3 linked regions of the Homo sapiens genome follow. The protein of the gene in region 1 purifies or fractionates together with the protein of each later gene. This does not show direct contact. Each region holds a gene or a part of one and is shown on either strand. Other genes may lie near its edges. The genes, in order: DCN, KLHL17 and PLAT.

The links.
Region 2: the proteins of DCN (region 1) and KLHL17 purify together in Homo sapiens (affinity purification with mass spectrometry; 3 studies listed by BioGRID and IntAct, with this or other methods). This does not show direct contact.
Region 3: the proteins of DCN (region 1) and PLAT purify together in Homo sapiens (affinity purification with mass spectrometry, with the first as the bait; one large-scale study listed by BioGRID). This does not show direct contact.

What each region holds. Positions count from the first base shown.
Region 1 is NC_000012.12:91,148,260-91,151,912, forward strand, and holds part of DCN (decorin isoform a preproprotein), read right to left. Parts: intron 3,534-3,653; coding exon 3,395-3,533; intron 1-3,394. UniProt on the Homo sapiens protein: May affect the rate of fibrils formation.
Region 2 is NC_000001.11:963,574-966,362, reverse strand, and holds the end of KLHL17 (kelch-like protein 17), read right to left. Parts: intron 2,444-2,789; coding exon 2,355-2,443; intron 2,257-2,354; coding exon 2,183-2,256; intron 2,015-2,182; coding exon 1,833-2,014; intron 1,401-1,832; coding exon 1,172-1,400; 3' UTR 644-1,171; downstream 1-643. UniProt on the Homo sapiens protein: Substrate-recognition component of some cullin-RING-based BCR (BTB-CUL3-RBX1) E3 ubiquitin-protein ligase complexes. The BCR(KLHL17) complex mediates the ubiquitination and subsequent degradation of GLUR6. May play a role in the actin-based neuronal function.
Region 3 is NC_000008.11:42,179,966-42,183,618, forward strand, and holds part of PLAT (tissue-type plasminogen activator isoform 1 preproprotein), read right to left. Parts: intron 2,926-3,653; coding exon 2,754-2,925; intron 2,058-2,753; coding exon 1,972-2,057; intron 721-1,971; coding exon 525-720; intron 414-524; coding exon 277-413; intron 102-276; coding exon 1-101. UniProt on the Homo sapiens protein: Converts the abundant, but inactive, zymogen plasminogen to plasmin by hydrolyzing a single Arg-Val bond in plasminogen.

The sequences.
Region 1 (3,653 bases):
AGAGGGGGTTTCACCATGTTAGCCAGGATGGTCTCGATCTCCTGACATCGTGATCCGCCCACCTCAGCCTCCCAAAGTGCTGGGATTACTGGCATGAGCCACTGCGTCCTGCCACCAACAAGATCTTAAGTGAGCTATAAAACCTATGAAGTACTCCCTTAAAACATAACTTGAAAGCCTGGGCGTGGTGGCTTATGTCTGTAATCTCAGCACTTTGGGAGGCCGAGGCGGATGGATCATGAGGTCAGGTGTTCAAGACCAGCCTCACCAACATGATGAAACCCCGTTTCTACTAAAAATACAAAAATTAGCATGGCATGGCGGCACGTGCCTGTAATCCCAGCTACTCGGGAGGCTGAGGCAGGAGAATTTCTTGAACCCGAGAGGCGGAGGTTGCAGTGAGCCGAGATTGTGCCATTGTATGCAGTCCAGCCTAGGTGACAGAGCGAGACGCTCCGACTCAAAAAAAAAAAAAAAAAAAAAAAAAAAATTTGAAATATTGTTCTACCCACTAGGACATTCACATTCATGTGCTGGTGAAAACGGCTTTGTTTTTGTAAGGGCTGAAAAGCGAATTAGTAGATGTCATATAAAAACAGAAACAAGGAATATTAAAGTGAAAGCAACACTTATATGTATGGTTTATGGTTCTCATATTTTGGAAGTTTCTTGTTGTCATTTACCATCCTCTATATTCCAGTAGTGATTAGCAAGTAAAGGAAGGGGTGTTTGGTGAGCAATTTATGGTTAATATTGAAAGTGAGAGAACAAAATATCAAGACGTAAGTATTAGTCTGTGTAGAACAAAATAAAAGTAGATTCCAAACTCATTCTATGGGGTCAATATTTTCTAAGACCAAAGCCAGACAAAATTCATCATAAGAAAAAAAAATGTAATCAAATACCTCTTATGAATATGGACAAAAAATCTTTCACAAAATGTTAGGAAGCTACATTTCACAACATATAAAATGATTTCATGCTATAGGACCAAACATGATTTATCTCAGGGTTGTAAAATTGGTTTAACTTATGAAAATCAATCAAAGTAATATCAATGTAATACACTATATCAAAAATATAAAGGCCAAAACTCGCATGATTATCTCAATAGAAGCAGGAAAAACATGTAAGAAAAAAATTCATAATAAATGTTTTCAGTAAATCAGAAATAGAAGGGAACTTCCTCAACTTGATAAAGAGCATCTATAGAAGACCTGTGGCTAACATCGTAACTAATGGTAAAATGAATGCTCCCTCCTCCTAAACTAGCAAATAAGGCAAAGATGTCTAATTTCATCACCTTTGTTCAACATTGCACTGGCGATTCCAGCCAATGCAAAGGGTGGGTTGTGGGGGAGGGGGAGACCTAAAAGAATCCAAATAAAATAACTAAAGCTGTCTATTTTTAAATAATATATCCTGAATATAGAATATCCAAAGGAACTCACAAAAATTACTGCAACTAAAAACAAATTTGGCATAGTACCAGGATAGCTCAATATATAAACATCAATTGTATGTTTATACATTAGCAGCAAACAAATAAAAAAATTAACAATTCAAAACAGCATCAAAAAGAATGAAAAACAATGAATGTAGTAAAAGAATTGCAAGGCATGTATGCTAAAAATGACAAAAACTGTTGAGAAAAAGAAAAGAAGATATAAATAACCCTTGTTTGTGACTTGGAAGGCTCAATATTATTAAGATAGTAATTCTTCCCAATGATCTGTAGATTCAAAACAATACCTTTCAAAGCCTTACAAGAATATTTTTCCAGAAATGAAAAAGTAGATCCTAAAATTGATATGGAATGCAAAGGAACCAGAATAGCCAAAATAACTTTGAAAAAAAAGAACAAAGTTGGAGAACCTACATTTTCTAATTTCAAAACGTAATCAAAAGCTACAGTAATTGAAGGGTATAATACTGTCATATGACTAGACATATAGATAAATGTAATAGAATTGAAAGTCCAGAAATAAACCCTTACATTTATGATCGAGTGATTTTCAACAGTGACAAGACAATTCATTGGAGAAAGAATATTATTTCCAACAAATGACATTGGGACAATTGCTATCACATACAGAAAATGAATTAGACTCATATCATATACTAGGATTATCTCAAAATTAGATTATAAAACCAAATACAGGAGTTAAAATTATAAAATTTCTAGATGTTAAAGTATTCCTGGAATCTACACAAAACTATGGTCTATGAAACAAACAAAAATGATAAAATAGATTAATGATTCCCTGTGGCTGGAGATGAGATATTATCTCATGCCAGTCAGTATGGTGATTATTAAAAAGTCAGGAAACAGTAGATGCTGATGAGGCTGTGGAGAAATAGGAGTGCTTTTACATTGTTGGTGAGAGCATAAATTAGTTCAACCATTGTGAAAGACAGTGTAGCAATTCCTCAAGGATGTAGAACCAGAAATACCATTTGACCCAGCAATCCCATTACTGGGTATATACCCAAAGAAATATAAATCATTCTACTATAAAGACATATGCACACATAATGTTTATTGCAGCACTATTTTACAATAGCAAAAACATGGAACCAATCCAAATGCACATCAATGATAGACTGGATAAAGGAAATGTGGTACATATACACCGTGGAATACTATGCAGCCATAAAAAGGAATGGGATCATGTCCTTTACAAGGACATGGATGAAACTAGAAGCCATCATCCTCAGCAAACTAACACAGGAACAGAAAACCAAATACTGCATGTTCTCACGCATAAATGGAAGTTGAATGCTGAGAACACACGGACACAGAGAGGGTAACAAAACACACAACAGGGGGTAGGGGGTGAGCGGGCGAACTTAGAGGATGGGTCAGTAGGGCCAGCAAACCACCATGGCACACGTATACCTATATAACAAACCTGCACATTCTGCAAACGTATCTCATTTTTTTTTTAGAGGAAATAAAGAAAAATGATGAGGCCATGTCAAAAAGAATCAGGAGCTAGACCAAAGAAGCTCTTTCCAGTCAATTCTTGAATAATTTGAAAATTAAAATTAGTGACAGTAAAAAAAAAGAATTTTTATTTTACTTGTGGCTTCAAACTCCCCCTACTCACTATGGCACCAACATCACCACCCCTACTGAAAAAAATATCAGCATTACAGAAGACTTTAAGTTTCATCTCCATACTTCTAAATCAAAAACTTTATTGAAATCTAGCTAATGTAAATTGTGCTTCATGATTTAATTTTTTTTATGGTATTTTGTCATAGAAATTCTAACTAAGACACTCTGGAAAAAAAACTTCTAAGAAGAGCTTCCTGCTTCCCAGCATCCCATAAGCAGGGTGGGGGTCTTGCTTTTTGGATATTCCTCACATAAGCAGTGGCTTTGCATTACCTGGATGTACTTATGCTCTGCCAGCCCACCAGGTACTCTGGTAAGCTTGTTGTTGTCCAAGTGAAGCTCCCTCAGATGAGGCGTGTTGGCCAGAGAGCCATTGTCAACAGCAGAGATGCTGTTGAAACTCAATCCCAACCTGCAACAGAAAGCAGAAATGAAAGCAAACACCACACATGGATGCCTTTCTTACAAGCATTGTGTAGTTAATCAAGTCTATAGGAAAGGACATTTTTTGTTTTTGCACTTACTCTTCCCA
Region 2 (2,789 bases), on another chromosome or scaffold:
CCCTGGGCCCTCCACTCGAGAGGCCAGCCTTGGGGCAAGCACCCCTCTGGCCCAGACGAGGCCTCCAGTGTGCAGAGGTACCCCACCTGCTTGTGCTCCGGCTTGGTGAACCCGGGGCGACCTTCCAGGCCCCCCGGGACAACGTGCCCACACATCCTGTTTCCATCTAAACTCTGGCCGGCCCGAGTCACCGGTGACTGCAGGGAGGGCTGAGGCAGGAGTTCCAGCACAGGAGACGGCGGCCAAAGCCACCGCAGCCTCCCCTCCTGCCTGGGCCCCCTCGCCACAGACCCGAGTCAGGGTCCCCAAGGCTTAAGGGGACTCAGGGAGGCCACATGCCCCCTAGACGGCCAAGACAGTCAGCGCACTCGGGGGCAAGGCTGTCCTCCCCAGCCCTAACCCCAGAGCCCACGATGTGGCGGGGACCTCGGCCTCAGTACCCAGCCCAGGCAAACGCCACCCACACTGGGACGCTGGTCCACAGGAACTGCACGGCCCCCACCCTCCCTGGACGCACAGCTCTGCCTTGCAGCTCCCAGATGCCTGCGCATCTCAGGGCACCCCCCCACACCCCTCACCCTGGACCCCAGACAGGACCCAAAGTTGCGCAGCTGCCCCACATGCCAGAGAGAGATGCTCAGCCTGAGGAACCCCAGAAATGTGTTTATTAAGTTGGACTCGTATTGCTGTGTGGGGTCCCAGTGCACGCGTGTGCACCCACTACAAGATCCAGGAAAGATGGCACACGGCAGACGACGACAGGAAGGACAACTGCTCCCCACCCTTCCCGGGACCCCGCCATGTGCAAAATTCGAGCTGGGGTCTGCAGCTGCTTGGAGAGACCCAGGGCCTCTTGCTCCACAGCCTGCAAGGTCTGAGCAGGCAACGGCCCTGGGGCGGTGAGGCCCCCGCCTGGTCACTCCCCGCGCCCCCCATGCAGGCAGTGGAGGGGAGGACACGCAGGAGGACCAGACGCTAAAGGTGTAAACGGGCAGCCGTGGCACTCCTCACCCCTCAATAAATAAGATAAATAACTAAATAAATAAACAACTAAATAAAGACATGAAGGAATGGATGCAGAGACGTGAACGGATGGCGCAGGACGTCCCTGGTGGGGGCCACGGTCCCCTTAAGGCATGTGGGAGGCTGCAGGCCTCTGGTGGTAGGTGGGTCAGAGGCTGGTGGAGGACACGGACAGCGTCGGGGAGGATGGCGGCGGGAAATTGAGCAGCTCCAGCACCGCCACACCCACACTGCTGCGCCGGGTGAACATGCAGGATGCGGCCACCCACTTGTTGGTCCTCGGGTTGTACTTCTCGATGGAGTTGAGGCTGGAGCTACCGTCGTTACCCCCCACGGCGTACAACCATCCGTCCATGGCCACCAGGTCATGCGTGCTCCTGGGGGGAAGGCGGGGTGAGCCCCTGGCTGCAGGAAGGGATGCGGGGGGAGGGGCTGCACCACAAAAAGGGGTGGTGGCGGGACATGCTCGCTGAGGTTGGGAGAACTCCCTTCTCACAGCACATCCCCACTGCGGACCCGCGCCCCCCTCCCGGCAGCACATCCCCACTGCGGACCCGCGCCCCCCTCCCGGCAGCACATCCCCACTGCGGACCCGCGCCCCCCTCCCGGCAGCACATCCCCACTGCGGACCCGCGCCCCCCTCCCGGCAGCACATCCCCACTGCGGACCCGCGCCCCCCTCCCGGCAGCACATCCCCACTGCGGACCCGCGCCCCCCTCCCCGCAGCACATCCCCACTGCGGACGCGCGGACCCCTCCCACAGCCCCACTGCGGACCCGCGCCCCCCTCCCCGCAGCCCCACTGCGGACCTGCGGATATTCATGGGCGCCACGCTTTCCCAGGCTCCAGCCTTTGGACTGTATCTCTCTACCGAGTTGAGGCAGCTGGTGCCGTCGTTGCCCCCTGCCACGTACAGGGCACCCTCCAGCACGGCCACGCCCGCTGAGCTGCGTCGGCTCAGCATGGACGCCACGGGCGACCACACGTTCACCTGGGGGCGAGGGCGTGGGCTGGACGCAGACCCGCCACTGGCATCCCTCCTCTGCCGCAGCCCCGACTCCAGGGTGGGGTGTCAGGAATGGGGGGGATGTGGGTAAACAGAGGGAGGAGGGCCCCGCGGCGCACGGGAGGGGGTGGCCAGGAGGGGTGCACTATGCACCTGGGGCTCATACTTCTCCACAGTGGCCAGGTGTGAGGAGCTGTCGTAGCCGCCCACAGCATACAGGTTCCCATCTGCCGGAAGTCAACACACCCGTGGCACTCCTGCTGGGAGTGGGGTCTCCACGGTGGGGGAAGGTGGGGATGCCCCCCAGGCAGGCCCCATCACCCACCAAGCGTGGCCACTCGCACATAGCGCCTCCGGGTGCTCATGGCAGCGACGGACGTCCACGTTCCGGTCAGGGGGTCGTAGCGTTCAGCACTGTGGGCACCAGGACCGCAGCCACAGCTCAGCAGAGACAGAAAGGCGTCCCGGCCCCAGGACCTGCCCTCCCCAGCGGAATGGCTGAAATCTTACCCTAGGAGTCAAACTCAGACCGCAAAGTCCTACCAGGCAGGGCCCGCTGGTGGGCACAGGACCCTGGCTGCCTGAACAACCCTGGGTGCACACCCACCTGGGCCCAGCCTCTGGACTGGGGGTAAGGACCCGAGAGAGGAAAGGGCACTGGGGCAGCAAAGCCAAGAGTTCAGGCCCAGTGTGGCAGTGGCCTGGGGTGAAACGGCCTCGCGGATCACCTCCTTTAACACCCCATCAGATACGACCCCTG
Region 3 (3,653 bases), on another chromosome or scaffold:
CCAGTCCGGCAGCTGCAGGTCCGCCGGGGGAAGGCACACAGTGCGGACCACGCTGCTCTCCTGGGCACAGCGGGACGAATCCGATTTCAGCTGCAGCAGCGCTGGGAGGGAGAAAGGAGGAGTGAGCTGGCGTGAGGGCCGCGTCCCCGGGAGGGGAGGAACACGCAGGAGGGGCAGGGGCTGGAGGAGGAGGCCCGTGTGTGTAAACATAGGTGAGTGCATGTGGGTGTGTTGTGTGATCTGTATGAACTGGAGCCGGGAATGACGAGCTCTTACCAATGTCATTGTCGTAAGTGTCATCATCGAATTCCTTATGGACAATGTATTTTTCGACTTCAAATTTCTGCTCCTCCTCGCCAGGGACCACCCGGTATGTTCTGCCCAAGATCACCGTCAGGTGGTGGGGCGGAAACCTGGTGGAGAAACAGCCTTAGAATGCTTTTTTTGCTGTGGGATTTCCCCTAAAGGGCTTGGTTTCTAGGCGTTAGAGGGTGGAAAAACCAACTGGGTTTCCGAGCCCCTACCTCTCCTGGAAGCAGTGGGCGGCAGAGAGAATCCAGCAGGAGCTGATGAGTATGCCCCCGCACAGGAACCGCTCTCCGGGCGACCTCCTGTGCTTGGCAAAGATGGCAGCCTGCCAGGGGTGGGAGGCGATGTCGGCGAAGAGCCCTCCTTTGATGCGAAACTGAGGCTGGCTGTACTGTCTCAGGCCGCAGGTGGCTGGGGAGGAAAGGACGAGGAGGCAGTCAGTCCCACAGGCCTCCTGCACGTGTGTAGGTAGAGTGAGGAGGCCATCAGCATGGCTGTAAAACCACAACTTTCACTTGGTGGGATCAGCATGCCGAATGTTGTCCATACATTCTCTTTAGTTCCCACAGCGATAAGTTTCAGGAGGCGGAGACGTTTTTGCCCAAGGTTGCAATGGCACCTGGATTAGTTCCCAAGTATGTTTGACTCCAAAACTGGGGATCTGCCATCCTTCATTCCTTCTAATGTTTTCCTACAGCCATTTCCTGGCCTAAGAAATGAAGAATTGCAGCTTCCTTCTGTGGAATGTCTGCTCATTTCTTTTCCATCTGTCCAACCTTACCCATGCTTCAAGGCCCAGGTGCAATCCTGCCTCCTCGCAAAGCTTTCCTGACGTCCCCACCTGCTCAGCTCTGAGGAGCTTAGGGACACGGACCACTGAGGACTCACACTAATGCCCTTGGGTGTGAGTTAGCTGGTGGTCTGTGTCTCATCGTCCCAGTTGGACTTGTGTTCCTTGGGGAACATTCTGGCTGATCTGTGTTCACAGGAGGTGATTAATAACCTACTCTCTGGCCATTTCCAAACTAAAGTTTCATTTTTTAGCAATATGCACCAACTTGAATCTCCTATCTCTCACCCACATCATGAGCCAGCTCCCCTGTGTGAAATAGGTCAACAGGAAACGTGGAAGATCTCACAGTGGAAGTACATGCCATTGGGGTCAGAGGGCATGAGGGCAGGCCCTAGCTTTACCTCCCGGTGCCCAGCGAGCTTGGGCAGGCCACCTGGCGTCTGGGAGACTGCTTCCTACTCAGTAAACTGGAGGTAGGAAGACCACCTCCACCACGCTGTTGGACAAATGTGGTGAAGGCACTTTATTATCTAAGGAGCCATGCATGCGAGGCCTCCTCCTCATTCCCCATTACTCTCAGCAACACCAATAGAGGCGTCTAGAGAGAGCCGGGTAGAGCCTACTGACTTCTCAGAGAGGTTGCTGTGTTCTTTTCTTTCTTCTTGCCCCTCCCCACCACCCCCATGCATGGGTCATGGACACCCGCCCACCCACCGTGGCTTCAGTCATGGAAGCCCCCTCCCCACCCAGCCTGGAAGTCTGGTAGGCACACAGTCTGCACCAGACAGCCATGAAGGCCTAGAAAGTGGCGAGGAGATGGTGAAGAAGGGAGACCAGGTGCAGGGAGGCAGCCGGGGCCCAGCCCTTACAGCAGGAGGGCACATCACAGTACTCCCACGTCAGCCTGCGGTTCTTCAGCACGTGGCACCAGGGCTTGGCATCCCCATCAGGATTCCTAAATGATAAGAGAGTTTAAGGTTTCCTTTTTATCTTCTTATTTTTTAATTTTTGTAGAGATGGGGTCTTGCCATGTTGCCCAGGCTGGTCTTGAACTCCTGGGCTCAAGCAATCCTCCTGCCTCAGCCTCCCAAAGTGCTGGGATTACAGGCATGCACCACCACACCAGGCCAGGAGTTTAAGATTTTCAATCCCATTTTCAGCCACATCACAGGCCATGTAAGAGTAGAAGGAGACTCAGTCAACCAATGAAAACCACTGAGCTGGGAGGGAGGACACCGAGTTCATCTTGACCTTGCAGCACACCCCCACCCTAGGAGAACTTCTCTTTAACTTTGTTACCCAGTCAGTAATGTAGTGTTCTAATCTCATAGGGTTGTCAGACAGAACTGTGAGCTGTCCTGTTACGGAACTCTTACAAATCATTGCAATAAAGATGTCAGGAGAACAGCTGAGGACTAAATGGTTACAGGCCAGGACCCTTAACTTGGGATTTAGGTTGGAAAACTGGTAGACCTTGCTTTTCACAATATGTGTTATTCTAGCAAGTGAAGAGGTTGGATTAGATAATATCCATGGGTGCTTCCCACGCACTGGGTCTGTCATGCAACTTGAGACATTGGATCTTCCCCCGTCTCACACCCTAATCCCACGTTCTGCCAAGACCTGAACCCCCCACCCCTGTGCTACCTACCGGCAGTAATTATGTTTGCCCAGGCCCAGTGCCTGGGCACTGGGGTTCTGTGCTGTGTAAACCTTGCCTATCAGGATCATGGAATTCCACGGGAGGCAGGAGGCACCCGACTCGGTGAGGCTGTGCGTGCCACGGTAGGCTGACCCATTCCCAAAGTAGCAGTCACTGTTTCCTAGAAGAAAAGAATTCTCAAACTGAAACAAAAACAAATTCTGAAGCACGCAAGTCAGGGCTGGGGCTTGAAGCGGAGCTGCCGGTCGAGGAAGCTGGAGGCCGCTAGCCCGGCACTGAGAAGAGTGTAACACCTCACACTTCCCCTTTTGTTGCCCAGGCTGGAGTGCAATGCGCGATCTTGGCTCACTGCAATCTCCACCTCCTGGGTTCAAGCGATTCTTCTACCTCAGCCTCCCGAGTAGGTGGGGTTACAGGCATGCGCCACCATGCTACGCTAATTTTGTATTTTTAGTTGAGACAGGGTTTCACCATGTTGGCCAGGCTGGTCTTGAACTCCTAACATCAGGTGATCTGCCCGCCTCAGCCTCCCAAAGTGCTGGGAGTACAGGTGTGAGCCAACACGCCCGGCCTGAGCCTTTTTCCCCCTCTTTGAGTCCTTTTACTTAGAGATGGCAAGGGGGTTTCATCTCCACCGGAAGTGGCTCCCTAGATTGCTATGTTGAGAGAGAGTCTGGGGACATCTTCAGGTTCAGCAGGAAGAACCACTTCCATGAGTGGGGGCTGTTTCTGAAGCTGCTTTGAAAGCCAGTAGGGGTTTCCTTGTGTTACTTAACAGGCTGCAGTGAACCAACGTGCTTCAGTGGGGCTGGGGTGGGGGTTATTTCTCGGACTGTGTCTGCCAGTGTCCTGAGGATCTGATGATGGGCTTGGGAAGGAGGAGGGTAT